2 separate regions of the Homo sapiens genome follow, and region 1 is linked to region 2. A link means that fine-mapping ties the variant in region 2 to the expression of a gene that starts in the linked region. Tissue or cell type: whole blood. Region 2 holds a variant in brackets; the other region holds the start of a gene. All regions are shown on one strand. Distances are between the middles of the regions.

What was found. PIP is the estimated chance that this variant, and not a neighbour inherited with it, causes the effect.
Region 1: TMEM44 starts here. The variant in region 2 is fine-mapped to the expression of TMEM44 in whole blood (TOPMed, PIP 0.96).

What each region holds. Positions count from the first base shown.
Region 1 is chr3:194,628,360-194,636,528 of GRCh38, reverse strand. It overlaps TMEM44 (transmembrane protein 44), which reads left to right and starts at 3,110. Exons shown (of 10, transcript NM_001011655.3): 1 at 3,110-3,450; 2 at 8,020-8,146. The coding sequence starts at 3,314. TMEM44-AS2 (TMEM44 antisense RNA 2) reads right to left here and starts at 3,601. Exons shown (of 2, transcript NR_186047.1): 1 at 3,362-3,601. RefSeq lists an enhancer at 1-361 and a silencer at 2,912-3,341.
Region 2 is chr3:194,580,217-194,588,453 of GRCh38, reverse strand. TMEM44 (transmembrane protein 44) reads left to right here. Exons shown (of 10, transcript NM_001011655.3): 10 at 1-776. TMEM44-AS1 (TMEM44 antisense RNA 1) reads right to left here and starts at 4,186. Exons shown (of 3, transcript NR_047575.1): 1 at 4,006-4,186. RefSeq lists enhancers at 4,170-4,219, 4,255-4,920 and a silencer at 4,410-4,669. The variant CCGCCGCAGCCGA/A (reference allele first, on the strand shown) is at 4,553.

The DNA of each region.
Region 1 (8,169 bases), 48 kb before region 2:
CTACTGGACTGTAAGCTCCAAGTAAGTAGGACCCATGTCTGTTTTACTCAATAGTGTGTTCCCAGCTCCTAACGCAATGCCTGTCTTAGTCTATTTGAGCTACTATAACAAAATGCTTTGGACTGAGTGGCGTGTAAATAACACAGATTTGTTTTTCACAGTTGTGGAAGCTAGGAAGTCCGAGATCAAGGTGCCTGCAGATTTAGTTGAAGGGCCTGCTTTCTGGTTCCTAAAGGCGCCACCTAATATAGTTTGGTGCAAAAGTAATTGCGGTTTTGGCCATTAAATGTAAGCCACTTTTAATGGCCAAAAAAAGTGGCTTACTCTTAATGGCCAAAACCGCAATTACTTTTGCACCAAAGCTTACTTTTAATGGCCAAAACTGCAATTACTTTTGTACCAAAGTACTTTTATCTGGCTTTTTTTGTTTTGTTTTGTTTTGTTTGTTTGTTTGAGACAGAGTCTTGCTCTGTTGCCCAGGCTGGAGTGCAGTGGCGTGATCTCGGCTCACTGCAACCTCTGCCTCCCAGGTTCAAGAGATTCTCCTGCCTCCGCCTCCCAAGTAGCTGGGATTACAGGTGCCTGCCACCACACCCAGCTAATTTTTGTATTTTTAGTAGAGACAGGGTTTCACCATGTTGGCCAGGCTGGTCCGGAACTCCTGACCTCAAGTGATCCACCCGCCTCAGCCTCCCAAAGTGCTGTGATTACAGGCGTGAGCTACCGCTTCCAGTACTTTTAATAGCCAAAACCACAATTACTTTTGCACCAATCTAATACCATCAAATTAGTGATTAGATTTCATTTCTCCTGAGAGGTTATAACTTTGTTTTGTTTTGAGAGACCGGGGTCTCCCTATGTTGTCTAGGCTGGTCTCCAACTCCTGGGCTCCACTGATCCTCCCACCTTGGCCTCCCAGAGTGCTGGGATTACAGGCATGAGCCACCTTACCAAGCCAAATCATAACTTTGAAAACACAGTGAACCACTAAAATAGTGTAGCCACTTTGGAAAATAGTCTGGCAATTCCTCAAAACATTAAACACAGTTACCACAGATCCCAGCAAGGACACTCCTAGGTATATACCCAAGAGAGCATGAAACCTGTGTCCACACAAAAACTTGTGCACAAATGTTCAGAGCAGCATTATTCATAATAGCCCAAAGGTGAAAGCAATCCAAACATCCCACTAATGAGTGGATAAACGAAATGTGGTATAAAAATACCCATACCATGTATTATGATGAGCCATAAACAGGAATGAAGTACTGATAACACGCAGCAACATGAATGAACCTTGAAAACATGCTAAGTGAAAGTCACAGAAAGGTCATATAGTGGATGATTCCATTGATGTGGAATGTCCAAAATGGGCAAATCCATAGAGACAGAAGGTAGATTTGCGATTCCTGGGCTGCGAGTGTTGAGGGGAGTGGACAGTAACTGCCAGTGGGCCGGGTTCTTTTCAGATGGGGGTGATGAAAATGTTCTAAAAGTAGACAGTGATGTTGGTTGCACAACGCTATGGATACACTAAAAACTGCTGAATTGTACATTTTATTTTTTGTTTTGTTTTGAGATGGAGTCTTGCTCTGTCGCCCAGGCTGGAGTGCAGTGGCGCCATCTCAGCTCACAGCAATCTCCGCCTCCCAGGTTCAAGCAGTTCTCCTGCCTCAGTCTCCCGAGTAGCTGGGATTACAGGCGCCTGCCATCATGCCTGGCTAATTTTTGTGTTTTTAGTAGAGATGGGGTTTCACCATGTTGGCCAGGGTGGTCTCAAACTCCTGACCTCAAGTGATCCACCTGCCTCGGCCTCCCAAAGTGCTGGGATTACAGGCGCGCACCACCATGCCCGGCTAATTTTTGTATTTTTAGTAGAGACAGTGTTTCACCATGTTGGCCAGGCCGGTCTTGAGCTCCTGACCTCAAGTGATCCGCCTGCCTCAGCCTCCCAAAGTGCAGGGACTACAGTTGTGAGCCACCGTGCCTGGCCAGAATTGTACATTTTAAAAGTACTATGTAGGCTGGATGTGGTGGCTCACACCTGTAATCCCAGCACTTTAAGAGGCTGAGGAGGGCAGATCACGAGGTCAGGAGTTTAAGACCAGCCTGGCCAACATGGTGAAACACCGTCTCTACTAAAAATACAAAAATTACTCGGGTGTGGTGGCGGGCACCTGTAGTCCCAGCTACTTGGGAGGCGGAGGCAGGAGAATTGCTTGAACCTGGGAGGCGGAGGCTGCAGGGAGCTGAGATCGCACCATTGCATTCCAGCCTGGGCAACAGAGTGAGACTCTGTCTCAAAAAAAAAAAAAAAAAAAAAGACTATGCTTATGGCATATAAATAATATCTAAATAAAGCTGTAGTTTTTGAAAATTAAAAAAGATTTTTTTTCTTTTTTTCAATCCTGCTCCTTCTATAGAAATATTGTTTTCAAGTCATGTCTTGCTTTAAACAAACCTACTAAAATCAATAAGGAGATTTAAAAATTACAATAATAGTTTACTCTCAAGAAAAACAGCCCTGTGTACTTGAACTGTGCGGTGTGTGGCTGGACAGGAGGCGGCCGGTTGCAGAGATAACCAGCTCTTGGCTGCGGGGCCGTGGGCTAGGATGACATCCAGGAGCAGGGCTTGGGCGACTGCCTGGGGGCGGAGGGTGCCGTTGGCAGCTTCAGAAAGGAGAGTGAGAGGCAGATGTGGGGGTATTTGTTCTCCGGCACGTTTGTTTCCTCCTTCCTGGTCTTGCACCCCACCCTTTTTACTGCGCCCTGTCGGCGATCAGGACCACGCCCCCTTCACCTCGGGATCCCAGCACCCATGCGCTTCAGCAGCGCAACTAATTGCTGTTGGCTCAGGAAATGTGGACAATACGCAGGAAGGGACGCCGTGCCTTACAGCGACCGGCAGGGACTCGGCCGTCCGCGAGCCCAGCCGCCCGCCCCGCTCCGGCCAGGATGTTGGAGGTGGGTGACCGCGAAGAGGTCGGCGGGGGGCGGGGGCCGCAGTCTTTGTGCGCGCGCAGCTCCCGGCTCCCGCCGCTGGGGGGCGGCCTCCGCCCTGCCGACCCCCGACAATAGCGCGAGGGGTGGGGAGCGCGCGGTCCCGGAAACTTTTCCCCGGCGCCTTCGCCGCCGCCGCCCGCGCCCGGGAGCGCGCCCTTCTCTGCCCGCGGTCGGTGCGCTCGGCCGGAGGCGCCGCGGCGGAACGGAACCCAGAGAAGGGCACGCGGGGCGGCGGCGCTCGGGGCTTGCCCGCGGCGAGGGAGGCTGCGCCCAGGTCCCCGGCCCCGCGCCGCGCGCCCAGCCGCGCCATGGGGGAGGCGCCCAGCCCCGCGCCCGCGCTCTGGGACTGGGACTACCTGGACCGCTGCTTCGCCCGCCACCGCGTCTGCATCTCCTTCGGCCTGTGGATCTGCGCCTCCTCCTGCTGGATCGCCGCCCACGCGCTGTAATGGGGCCACGGGTCGGGGGGCTGTCGGGCGGGGAAACGGGCGCCAATCCCCTGCTGCTCCCTCTCGGAAACCTAGAGGAGGGGGCGGAAAGGGGGATGAAGGAGATGGCTCAGTAATAGGATCCAATGGAACATTGCTCTGTAGACTGAAGTGGGATCTTCTTTCCGGATCCCACGCACAGGGAAGCTGGGCTGTGAGCCAAAGGGAGGAGGCTGGGTGGTGCAGCGGATGGGGCCCCGAGGACACCGCGAGCCCTGGGTGCTATTGTCAGCCCTTCGCCATTGACTCGCAGTGTGACCTGGGCAAGCTCCAGAACCTCTCTGGGCCTCCTATGACCGGAGATAATACCTCATAGGATGATGGGAGGATTCGATGAATCAGTACCGTTAAAGCACTTAGTAAATGCTCATTAAACATCATTTGTATTGCTCCAGCTAGGCCACCAACTCTTAGGACCTTGGCAAGTCCCTTGATGTTTCTGGCCTCAGTTTACCCAAAGTCCTCTTAGGTGGGAAGGGAGGTAGTGATATGATCCAGCTGGCCTGTCTTTGCCCTGGTCTGTCCAGCACCTGGACTGGTTTGTCCAGATGCCCACGGTAGCCTAAGTTCTAAGAGTGAATCTCCAGGTCCTCAGCCGCTCTGTCCTAGGCATGGAAATCCACTAGCAGTGCTCAGGATGGTGCCGCCCAAGCATTCCCTGGCAGGGGAGAAAGGACCAGCACCCCTGGGAGAGGTTAGAACTGTCTCCCTGTAGGCACTCAGTGGATATTCTCCTAAGGCGTTTGGTCGTATTGCAGAGATTCTGCAGCCCCACTACCCAGTACTGCAATACAAATAAAAAGACGCCTAGAACATTTACTGTAGGCCCAGTGTTGCATTCATTAACTCATTCAATGCCTGCCACTCACAATATCAGCACCAGGAGGTAGGTGCTGTTACCCCCACTTTCTGTAGGGAACCCTGAGGTTCTGAGAGGTTAAATAACTTGTCTGAGTGAAAGGAAAGAACCAAAACCCCAGATCCTATTGGAAAGGGGCAGGCTGGTAAGAGAGATTAAACTGTTCAGATCAGAGGCTGGAAACTAACAAGGCGCTGGACACGCATTATCCTTTTGTTCCTCACAGTTGTCCTCAGACCAGCACTGTTAGGCACTTTGCCAACCTTGGAGGGGTTAAGAGTGAGCCTCTGCTTCTCACCCTGCCTGGGATCTGGACATACCCATTTGTTTTCAGGGCCTTGCCATCCCTGAACCTCCCCTGCTCCCCTTTCTCTTAGAAGAATGTGTCTTCGGAGTGGTGTGTGGGCTGGGTTAAGGTCAGCTGGCACCCTGGCCCCAAGAGCTGGGGAAGTGGCTGAGAACAACAGGGTACGGAGCAAAGCCCCCGCGTGTGAAGCCAGAAGACCACCATTAACTCACCTTCTCACCAGAGGCCTCAGTTTTGTCCTCTCAAATGGGAGGGTTGATATAAATTATTTCTAATTGGGGTCCGCCTCTGGGAGTCTCCAATTTAAGAATCTCCACTCCTTGGTCTTCAATTGGTTTTAGGAGCCCAGGGCCCAGACTGAAGTTGATGTTGCCACTGTGAGCTTCAGGCTTGGGCCAGCAGGTCAGGAAATGTTTAGAAAGCCAAGAGCCCTCTGTACTCATCCACCATTCCCAAGGACAGGCGCTCAGAATCAGCTAAATCGTCCTAAGGATGTGGAATGAGCACCACCCTCTGCTGAGTGGAAATGAAGCCAGCGCTGCCACCCTGTCTCGGTGTCTCCAGAGAAATGTAGCAAGGAGGCAGGTACGACAATGTATTTCAGAGGCCCTATCAGTGACGCCGATAGAAACAGCCAGCCCCTTCGGAAGGCAGGTACGACAACATATTTCAGAGGCCCTATCAGTGACGCTGAGGGAAACAGCCAGCCCCTTCGGGAGGCAGGTATGACAACGTATTTCAGAGGCCCTATCGGTGACGCCAATAGAAACAGCCAGCCCCTTCGGGAGGCACGTGCGACAACGTATTATTTCAGAGGCCCTATCAGTGATGCCGACGGAAACAGCCAGCCCCTTCGGGAGGCAGGTACAACAGCGTATTATTTCAGAGGCCCTATCAGTGATGCCGACGGAAACAGCCAGCCCCTCCAGGAGGCATGTGCGACAACGTATTTCAGAGGCCCCATCAGTGACGCTGACGGAAACAGCCAGCCCCTTCGGGAGGCAGGTACGACAGCGTATTATTTCAGAGGCCCTATCAGTGATGCCGACGGAAACAGCCAGCCCCTCCAGGAGGCACGTGCGACAACGTATTTCAGAGGCCCCATCAGTGACGCCGACGGAAACAGCCAGCCCCTTCGGGAGGCAGGTACGACAGCGTATCATTTCAGGGGCCCTATCAGTGACGCCGATGGAAACAGCCAGCCCCTTCTGGAGGCAGGTACGACAGCATACTATTTCAGGGGCCCTATCAGTGACGCCGATGGAAACAGCCAGCCCCTTCGGGAGGCAGGTACGACAGCGTATCATTTCAGGGGCCCTATCAGTGACGCCGATGGAAACAGCCAGCCCCTTCTGGAGGCAGGTACGACAGCATACTATTTCAGGGGCCCTATCAGTGACGCCGATGGAAACAGCCAGCCCCTTCGGGAGGCAGTACGACAGCGTATTATTTCAGGGGCCCTATCAGTGATGCCGACGGAAACAGCCAGCCCCTTCGGGAGGCAGGTACGACAGCGTATCATTTCAGGGGCCCTATCAGTGACGCCGATGGAAACAGCCAGCCCCTTCTGGAGGCAGGTACGACAGCATACTATTTCAGGGGCCCTATCAGTGACGCCGATGGAAACAGCCAGCCCCTTCGGGAGGCAGTACGACAGCGTATTATTTCAGGGGCCCTATCAGTGACGCCGATGGAAACAGCCAGCCCCTTCGGGAAGCAGGTACGACAGCGTATTATTTCAGGGGCCCTATCAGTGACGCCGATGGAAACAGCCAGCCCCTTCGGGAGGCAGGTACGACAGCGTATTATTTCAGGGACCCTATCAGTGACGCCGATGGAAACAGCCAGCCCCTTCTGGAGGCAGGTACGACAGCATACTATTTCAGGGGCCCTATCAGTGACGCCGATGGAAACAGCCAGCCCCTTCGGGAGGCAGTACGACAGCGTATTATTTCAGGGGCCCTATCAGTGACGCCGATGGAAACAGCCAGCCCCTTCGGGAGGCAGGTACGACAGCGTATTATTTCAGGGGCCCTATCAGTGACGCCGATGGAAACAGCCAGCCCCTCCGGGAGGCAGGTACGACAGCGTATTATTTCAGGGGCCCTATCAGTGACGCCGATGGAAACAGCCAGCCCCTCCGGGAGGCAGGTACGACAGCGTATTATTTCAGGGGCCCTGTCAGTGACGCCGATGGAAACAGCCAGCCCCTTCGGGAGGCAGGTACGACAACGTGTTTCAGAGGCCCTATCAGGGACGCCGATAGAAACAGCCAGCCCCTTCAGGAGGCATGTACGACAATGTATTTCAGAGGCCCTATCAGTGACGCCGATAGATACAGCCAGCCCCTTCGGGAGGCATGTACAACAACGTATTTCAGAGGCCCTATCAGTGACGCTGATAGAAACAGCCAGCCCCTTCCTGCCCTTCCGTGCATCTTCTCCAGTGGATATGGACTGGGGAGGGGCTGTAAGGGGAGAAGTGGCTGTGGGGGCGCTGAGGGAGGGACAGCTCCAAGTGCCAAAAGGGCTCTGTGTTTAAAGAACATGGACACAGGCCAGCAGAAGCCAGGCTGCCCCACTTCACAGATGGTTTAGAAGAATTTCGTTTGAATTTATTTCAGAGAAACAAGTTGTCTTTTTAATTCAGGCAATTAACTGTGCTCTGCAGTTATCTGCAGTGGTTGGGTTGCTTTTTTTTTTTTTTGAGACGGAGTCTCGCTTTGTCACCCAGGCTGGAGTGCAATGGTGTGATCTTGGCTCACTGCAACCTCTGCCTCCTGGGTTCAAGCAATTCTCTTGCCTCAGCCTCCGGAGTAGCTGGGATTACAGGCGCACGCCACCACACCCGGCTAATTTTTGTATTTTTAGTAGGGGCGGGGTTTCACCATGTTGGCCAGGATGGTCTCGAACTCCTGACCTCAGAGGATCCTCCTGCCTCGGCCTCCCAAACTGCTGGGATTACAGGTGTGAGCCACCATACCCAGCCTGAGTTACTTTTATAACCCTCCTGTTTCCTTTTCAAAAAATAAAACCCGATGGCTGCTTTTTCAGTGCTAGGTGGGGGGTCATCAAATGGAGCCGTCCTGATTTGGAGTCGGAAAGTAAAATTCCTCTTCCTCCAAAGAGGCGGTGTCTTCACATCTCACGAGGTCTAGCTCCTGCCATGGGCATCTGGACAGGCGGCTCTGGAGTCTTCTGATTGGTTCCCATCTGTAAACTCAGTTCAAAAACACGTCCTAAATACCTCGGGCAGAAAGAGCTCCCTGACGATGCGGGGTCACAGTTGCCCTTTTTAGATACATGCGTTTGGGTCCAAACTCACAGTTGCTGTGTTCTGTCCACACCCCTGTCACCCCAGGCTTCTCTATCTGAGATGTGCACAGAAACCCAGACAGGACCAGTCGGCACTGTGTGCTGCGTGCTGCCTCCTGACCAGTCTGTGTGACACCGTCGGGGCTCTTCTGGCCAGACAGCTCACAATCCAGGTATGTTGGGCCTCCAGCTGACA
Region 2 (8,237 bases):
GCACTGACACCGCGGCAGGAACTGAAGCTGCCCTGGCAAGTGAGGAACCAGGAGCCGTCACTGAGTGTGGCTGGGCTACATCATAGCTCATCACGGAGCTACGACTTTGGGTACTGCGGACAGACCTGGATAGGCCCAGCATTCGTTCTGAAGATCACAGTTCACAGAAGCTTTTGCTTCGTAAAGATAATCCAAAGGATCTCAGACCCGCTCTTCCTTTTCCCTTCATTCCCTTGAGAGTCAGCCATGAACGGAATACCTGCTAGGTTCCAGGAATGAGCTCACCTAACAGATAGCAAATGTGTCTGGTTAGATCTCAGCAGAGCCCATTCTGCAAGACCTGGCTGAGCCAGATGAGAGGGTGGGCCCTGTGCTGGGGGGCCTTGGGTCACACACAGGAACCGAGACCTGGCTTCCACCCCCCAGTCACCCACTTGGGTTATCTGCTGGAAGTTATCGATAGGACTGTGTGGCCAACCAAGTGCTTGTGAGATCACTGACACTGCAAAAACAAAGCAAACTGCTCCGGGTACCAGGACTTCCTCCAACCTGGCAAGGGTGTGCGCTGAGGCGGGGCTTGCAGGTGAGGGGGCTGTATGCTTCAGGAACTAACTAAATGCATGCAGAAGGTAAGAGGCATGATGGGAGGTGTTCAAGCACAGCAATCCCATTTGGGAGTTATTTTGATACTGCGATGAGTAAGGGTAAGGGCGCATGGAATGGGGCTAAGGTGGGAGTGAACACTGGGGTGAATAAATTTTAAATCAATTCAAGTATCTCACTGTGGAGTGCAATGGCGAGCATGAATCCCTGCACAGTCACAGAATGACGTCGGCCACGAGAGGAAGTGGAGAAATGCCAAGCAACACAGTTTTGCTCCGGGCTGGCCCACAGCCGCCTGCGTGACGCAGCTACAGCAGCCCAGTTTCTCCTGAGGGGTAGGGCAAGTTCCAGCAGCATGAAGGGGGTCCCTTGGGGAAGCAGCGTGGCTCTGCAGGTCTCTGCATAGATCCTAATCCCCTGGGTGACCTCTGAACTACAAGTGATCTTAAAGCCACTTTATTTATCCCCTTTAATCTGAACTGTGTTGGTCCCTGGTTGTCTTGGAAAGTTTGCTGAAGTCAGCTTTGCTTTGTGATGTTAACCACTGAAGCTGTACTTCCAGGGAAGAGGAAGATTTGAATGGAGACCCAGGATGCAGGGAGAAAAGAGTGTTCAAATAGATGAAATAGTACAGAGGACTGGATGCAGGGAAAGGTGGGAGCTAGCAAGGAAGAATCTGAGATGGCCAGAATGGATGATGTAGTATGGGCTGTAGGGGTGGCAAAAAGGCTGAAAAGGAACCAGACTGGAGGCTGGTGAGTCAGTGCTTGGTTCTGTGGCCAGCTGGTAGCCATGGAAGATACCAGAGTAGGAAGGTGACTGACTTGCCTCAGGAAGACCACAACTGATTGGTGAGTTTTTCATTCCTATGGCTACAACTTTCCAGGAAGCAGAAATATAGTCATGGGTACAGAATGAACGTGGGGAACAGGTTTAATCTAGAGTACTGAGTGGTAACAGCAGGGCAGAAGAGCTTCTCTTTAGAAAGGCGGAAGGCATGGGGATAGGATGACCTCTGGAGTTTGCCTTTAGCACATCCTCTGTCTTGAGGGAACTCTGGATCATGCTCCCTAGGGCACCAAAAATTGGTGGGATCCAGGTGAAAGTGGCCATTCACCCAAGAACATCAAATGATCTTGGCCAGGTGCAGTGGCTCACACCTGTAATCCCAGCACTTGTGGTAAGCTGCGGCAGGCAGATCACTTGAGGACAGGACTTCAAGACCAGCCTGGCCAACATGGTGAAACTCCATCTCTACTAAAAGTACAAAAAATTAGCCAAGTGTGGCGGCCCGCACCTGTAGTCCCAGCTACTCAGGAGGCTGAGGCACAAGAATTGCTTGAACCCACGGGGTGGAGGTTGCAGCGAGCTGAGATCGCACTGCTGCACTCCAGGCTGGGCAACATAACAAGACTGTCTCAAAAAACAACAAAAACCTTGCTGACTTTGAGTAACACGAACTACCTAAGGTCCAGATATCATCTATCTCCCTAGATCCTGTTAGCCCAGCCTCCTCCCTTCACAAACTGGTTCCTATCATCACGGTCCCAGCTTGTCTAAGGGTGTCTCCGGCCTCTTCATCCACAGTGAACTACCAAACTGGGAATTTTGGAAGCGAGGTTTGGCTTCATTGTTCAACGAGAATCTTCCTGTATGCAAAGCTCTAGAACACTGGAGCCTTTGTAAGGAGGTGCCAATTAAAATGCCTGTCTCCTAGTAGGAGTGGGCCTCTGTTGCAGCTTTGTTTCTAGCCGTTAGACCAAGAGGGCAGTGGGAGCAACTTGCTCTGATGACCCAGTGAGCAGTGCAGGCACTTTACCTACACTGGGGAGGGGCTGGGGAACAAACTATGTAATCATTGGCTCACTCATCTGGAGACCTGTAGTATCATCTGGTTGTGCCGCCTATCATCTGTGTGGCTTGGAGCATGTCACCTAACCTTTGTGAACTTCTTAGGTAGACTAAGAATAATACCAACCTAGAAAGCCTATGGTGAAGACTAAGTGAACTAACATGTATGAAAATGCAAACATAATACCTATTCAAAGAAGACTTTGGAGAGGGATTAGTTTTCTTTCCCCCCATGCTTCCTGCACACATGTACTGAAAGAGTAACCAAATAATTAGACCTGCAGATGGAAGAGATTTCAGAGGTTTGAATGCCCTTAAACACAACCCCAATTAGTGATTATCCAGTCTCTACTTAAGTTCTCTGAAAAAAAGGATATCAGTTGCCAAGTCTTTATCATTTAGCGAGAGCTCTGCTAAGATGATGATGATGATGATTTTTTTTTTTTTTTTGAGATGGAGTTTCACTCGTTGCCCTGGAGTGCAATGGCACGATCTCACTTCACTGCAACCTCCGCCTCCCAGGTTCAAGCGATTCTCCTGCCTCAGCCTCCCGAGTAGCTGGGATTACAGGCTCCCGCCACCATGCCTGGCTAATTTTTGTATTTTTAGTAGAGACGCTGTTGGCCAGCCTGATCTGGAACTCCTGACCTCAGGTGATCCACCTGCCTCAGCCTCCCAAAGCGCTGGGATTACACGAATGAGCCACCGCACCCAGCTAAAGATTTTCTTGAAAGCCTGTCTAGATCCTGAAGAACTAATCCCCTTATCTCCCTCCCTCAGTATGATGAAGAGATTTATGAGCATCATTTGAAGACACATTCATATTATGTTTCTTTCAAAGGGGTATGAGCTCCTAGAATAAGAAGAGGCACTGGGCCAAGGAGCATGGCTGGGCTCCAGTTCCCAGGTCTGATTCAGTGTGATCTTTGTCATTTCCTTTTCTATGTCACAGTTTCCTCATCTGTAAACTGAAAGTTGGGCCTGATTTTTTTCATTTTTTCTCTTTTATGCATGTGCCAATTTGTTTCCCACAGAATACTGACATCTTTATAAGCTCTCAAGAAAGACATTATAAAAACAAATTTCAGATATACTTTGAACATAGGCTTCATTATACGACATATACCTCTTTCTGTTTGGATTTTACTGTCCACTTAATATAAAAACCTGTATTAATCACTAAGGAAAAGGATAGAGGAGACTTAGAAATATCTCCAGAATAATTTTGCAACAATTCCAAGATTCTCTGCACTTCTTTTTCTGTCCCTTAATTGGCCTCCTCCACATTTTCCAACTATGGAGGTATTGCTCTACTCTCTTCGACTTTACATTGTTTTAGAATGCTTTTGCAAGGAGACTCTGCCTTGAATGAACCCAAGATATGGTGCAATGTTGAGGAAGATCTCCAAGTTTACACATGCCTGTACGATGGCCCAAAGGTCATCATCAGGTGAAAGGGACGACCTTAGAGATGAAAGAAGTTCAAGGAATGGTGCTACATTAAATGACTTAGCATTAGAAAGCATCTACTTTGCTTTTTCTTTCACCAACCCTGAAAGCCAAATAAGGCACTGGGCATTCAGGCCTTCTTTTGAGCAGAACACGTGATTACGCAGTTATTCTTCAAGAGCCTCTGTTAATCTGTCGCTTGGAGAACTCTGCATACTGTCCCAAATCCGTCTGAATTTTCCATCGGCTGCCAGTGTTCGTAGCAGAGGCCTCGGGTCTTCTCGTCCTCTCCTCAGGGTCTGGCAGCTGTCACTACCGTGGACTTCGGTCCAGTCCCCAGAGTCGGGGGCGCTGCCTTTCCCATTTCAGTTGCCAGGGGGTTCATCCACGATCGTGCCAGAGGGGCAGCGCGTGGTCTCCTCGAACTACGGGGGAGAGAGGAACCACTGTTGGCACGGGCCGGACTGAACGCCGGCTCCCACTGCCTACCTCCTCGGAGCTGCATCCGCCGACATCTTGCGCCCTACTCCCAGCACCAGCAGGGCACTTCCGGGAAGAACGGAATTGCGGTTCCGCGCGTGCGCACTCCGCAGCCACCGCCTCCCGCGAGGAGCGAGAGTCCCGCGGCCCCGCCCCGCCGCCGCAGCCG[CCGCCGCAGCCGA/A]AGGCCGGCGTTTCTGACCTCAGCCAGCGGCGACGCAGCCGGGAAAGAACTGTCGAGGGCGTCTCCGTAGTTCAGTTTTGGTTTGTTTATTTGAGACGGAGTCTCTGTCGCCCAGGCTGGAATGCAGTGGCGCGGTCTCTGCTGACTGCAGCCTCCGCCTGCCGAATTCAAGCGATTCTTCTGCGACTGAATAGCTGGGACTACAGGGGCGCGCCACGACGCCCGGCTAATTTTTGTATTTTTAGTGGAGACGGAGTTTCACCATGTTGGTCAGGCTGGTCTCGAACTCCTGACCTCGTGATCCGCCCGCCTCGGCCTCCCAAAGTGCTGGGATTACAGGCGTGAGCCACCACGCCTGGCCCACCCCACTCGGTTTTTAAGGAGATAATTACAAGGTTATTTTACGGTTCATAGTGTGTTTCAGACCTCCCAGAAGCCTAACGGTGTATTATAAACCATTCTTTTCTTTGTTTTTAAATGCATTAAAAACCTTTTTTGAGATAAAAATAGTGCAAGTACATGGTTTAAAAAAAGAAAATCAGATTGCACCAAAAGGTTTATGATGAAAAACAATAATGTTCTGTCCCTTTGCCTCCAAGAGACTCCTTTTTAAAATCTTTTGGGCTGGGCGCGGTGGCTCACGCCTGTAATCCCAACACTTTGGGAGGGTGAGGCGGGCGGATCATCTGAGGTCAGGAGTTTGAGATCAGTCTGGCCAACATGGTGAAACCCCGTCCCTACCAAAAATACAAAAAGTAGCCGGGCGTGGTGGTGGGCGCCTGTAGTCTCAGCTACTTGGGAGGCTGAGGCAGGAGAATCGTTTGAACCGGCGAGGCAGAGGCTGCAGTGAGCTGAGACCGCGCCACTGCACTCCAGCCTAGGCAACAGGAGCAAAATTCTGTCTCAAAAAAAAAAAAAACTTTTATACCTTCTAGTAGTTGTCTCCATTAGGTTTGATTTGGAACATGCTTTCCAGCTACAGGGTTCTTAAGATCATACTTGCTTTTCCTGAGCTGCATCATCTTCAGCTTCCATTATACAGGCTGACGAGGCTCAGTAGCACGGCAGGGCCACTGGCGTATTGAGAAATGGATGGTCACCGTCTTCGCATCCGAGGGTTGTGTGGCGTGCCTCGCGCCAGGAACTCCTTGGCCACTCCGCAGTTTCCTAGCTAGAACCCGGCTTCTGAGCCCAGCACGCTCCAACAGCAGCCTGCCGCGGTCCACGCCTCTGCTCCGGACTTGACCTTTCCCTTCCGGCCTTCCTCCTACAGGTGTCTTGGCACCTGGAATCTCCAGAGGAAATCTGAGGGATTCTCTAAACCCACAGCTGGAACAAGGGACGTCATACACGGCGGCCACCACCATCTTTCCCAAGGACAGCATGGCCATGGATGAAAAGGGCCATTTCATGGGCCTTACCTTCTGCTAGCCAGTATAGCCTAAAGCCCTGATACTCAAATGTAGACTCTTAGGCTCCACCCGGAGGATTCCCTAGGTCTGGGCAGGGCTTGGGAAGCTTAGCAGGCTCCTCAGGTGATTCTGCTACAGATGGTCCAGGACCAGTCTCTGAAAAACACTGTCCTCGGGAAATTGCTTTTATGTATTTACTTTTTCCATCTCTTCTTGGTATTTTGTTATCATTTTCAAATACAGAGACGGAGTCTCACTATGATGCCCAGGCTGGTTCCGAACTCCTGGGCTCCAGAGATCCTCCTGCCTTGGTCCCCCAAAGTACTGGGATTACAGGCACAAGCCACCACTCCAGCCGGGAAATTACTTTTAAAACAGATCTATTTGTATGAGATGTTCTCACAAAACTACTTAGAATAGCAAACAAACAAAAAAAAAGTGATAAAGCTCCCAAACCCCACTGTTGTGCAGAATTAAACATACTTTTTTTTTTTTTTTTTTGAGATGGAGTCTGTCTCTGTTGCCCAAGCTGGAATGCAGTGGTGCCATCTCAGCTCATTGCAACCTCTGCCTCCTGGGTTCAGGCGATTCTCCTGCCTCAGCTTCCCGAGTAGCTGGGACTACAGGCGCGTGCCACCATGACTGGCTACATTTTGTATTTTTAGTGGAGACGGGGTTCGCCATGTTGGCCAGGCTGGTCTTGAACTTCTGACCCCAAGTGATCCACCTTCCTCGGCCTCCCAAAGCGCTGGGACTACAGGCATGATCCACCACACCTGGCCCAAACATTATGCTTTAATGAAGAAATGACATTTTGCCATTAAACCTAAAATATCACAGAACCATGGATTGAAGAACAGACATGAATTACCTTGAAATCATCTACTGCAGTGCCTGAGTGGCTTTGCCTGTTCTCACAGCATGAATTCTCAGTTCACACACAGTAAAAAAAAAAAAAAAAAAATTATGAAAGATAATGTCAGCTAATAGGCCGGGTGCAGTGGCTCACCCCTGTAATCCCAGTACTTTGGGAGGCCAAGTGGGGGCAGATTACCTGAGGTCAGGAGTTCAAGACCAGCCTGGCCAACATGGTGAATACCCCGTCTCTACTAAAAATACAAAAATTAGACACACGCCTGTAATCCCAGCTACTCGGGAGGCTAAGGCAGGAGAATTGCTTGAATCCAGAAGGCGGAGGTTGCAGTGATCACTGCACTCCAGCCTGGGCAACAGAGCAAAACTCTGTCTCAAAAAAAAAACAAAACCATAATGTAAACTAGTAAAGGTAGAACACAAGAGAGCTTGAGCCACCATTCACAATTATAAGAAAAATTTTGATAGATCAGAAAAGTCTTAGAAGTCATTAGATTCTGTTGTAAAAAGATTATGTGGATTTTTGTAGTAGATGTTTCTTGACTGTGGAAATACTTAAATACATCTTAAGAGAACTGTTCTAGTTTAAAGGAGTCTGCAGTGGGGATGGGGTGGGAGAGCTATATGGGATTACTGGGACAATTGAGCAAATTTGAATATGTACAGTGTATTAGCTAACTTTATTGTTTCCTTTCTTAATAATATTATGGTTGCACAGGAGAACGCCCCTTTGGATATACATGCTGAACTACTTAGGAGTGAAGCACCGTGATTTGGCAACTGACTTTTATTTTTTATTTTTTATTTTTATTTTTTGAGACAGAGTCTCGCTCTCTCGCCCAGGCTGGAGTGCAGTGGCATGATCTCGGCTTACTGCAAGCTCCGCCTCCCGGGTTCACACCATTCTCCTGCCTCAGCCTCCTGAGTAGCTGGGACTACAGGCGCCTGCCACCATGCCTGGCTAATTTTTTTTTGTATTTTTAGTAGAGACGGGGTTTCACCATGGTCTCGATCTCCTGACCTCGTGATCCTCCCGCCTTGGCCTCCCAAAGTGCTGGGATTACAGGTGTGAGCCACCGCACCTGGCCCCAAGCAACTGACTTTTAAATATTTCAGCAGAAAAAAATTATAAATTTTTCAGGTAGTTGGAGAGAGACAAAGCAAACGGAAAAACGGGAACAATGGATTAATCTAGGCGAATAGCATAAACATGTTCGTTATTCTTTCATCTTTTCTGTAGGTTGGAAGTTTTTCAAAGCCAGCTGGGTGAGAAAGAACAGGAGTAAAGAAAGATTCTCGCCAGGCGTGGCTCACGCCTGTAATCCCAGCACTTTGGGAGGCCGAGGCAGGTGGATCACCTGAGGTCAGGAGTTCGAGACCAGCCTCAC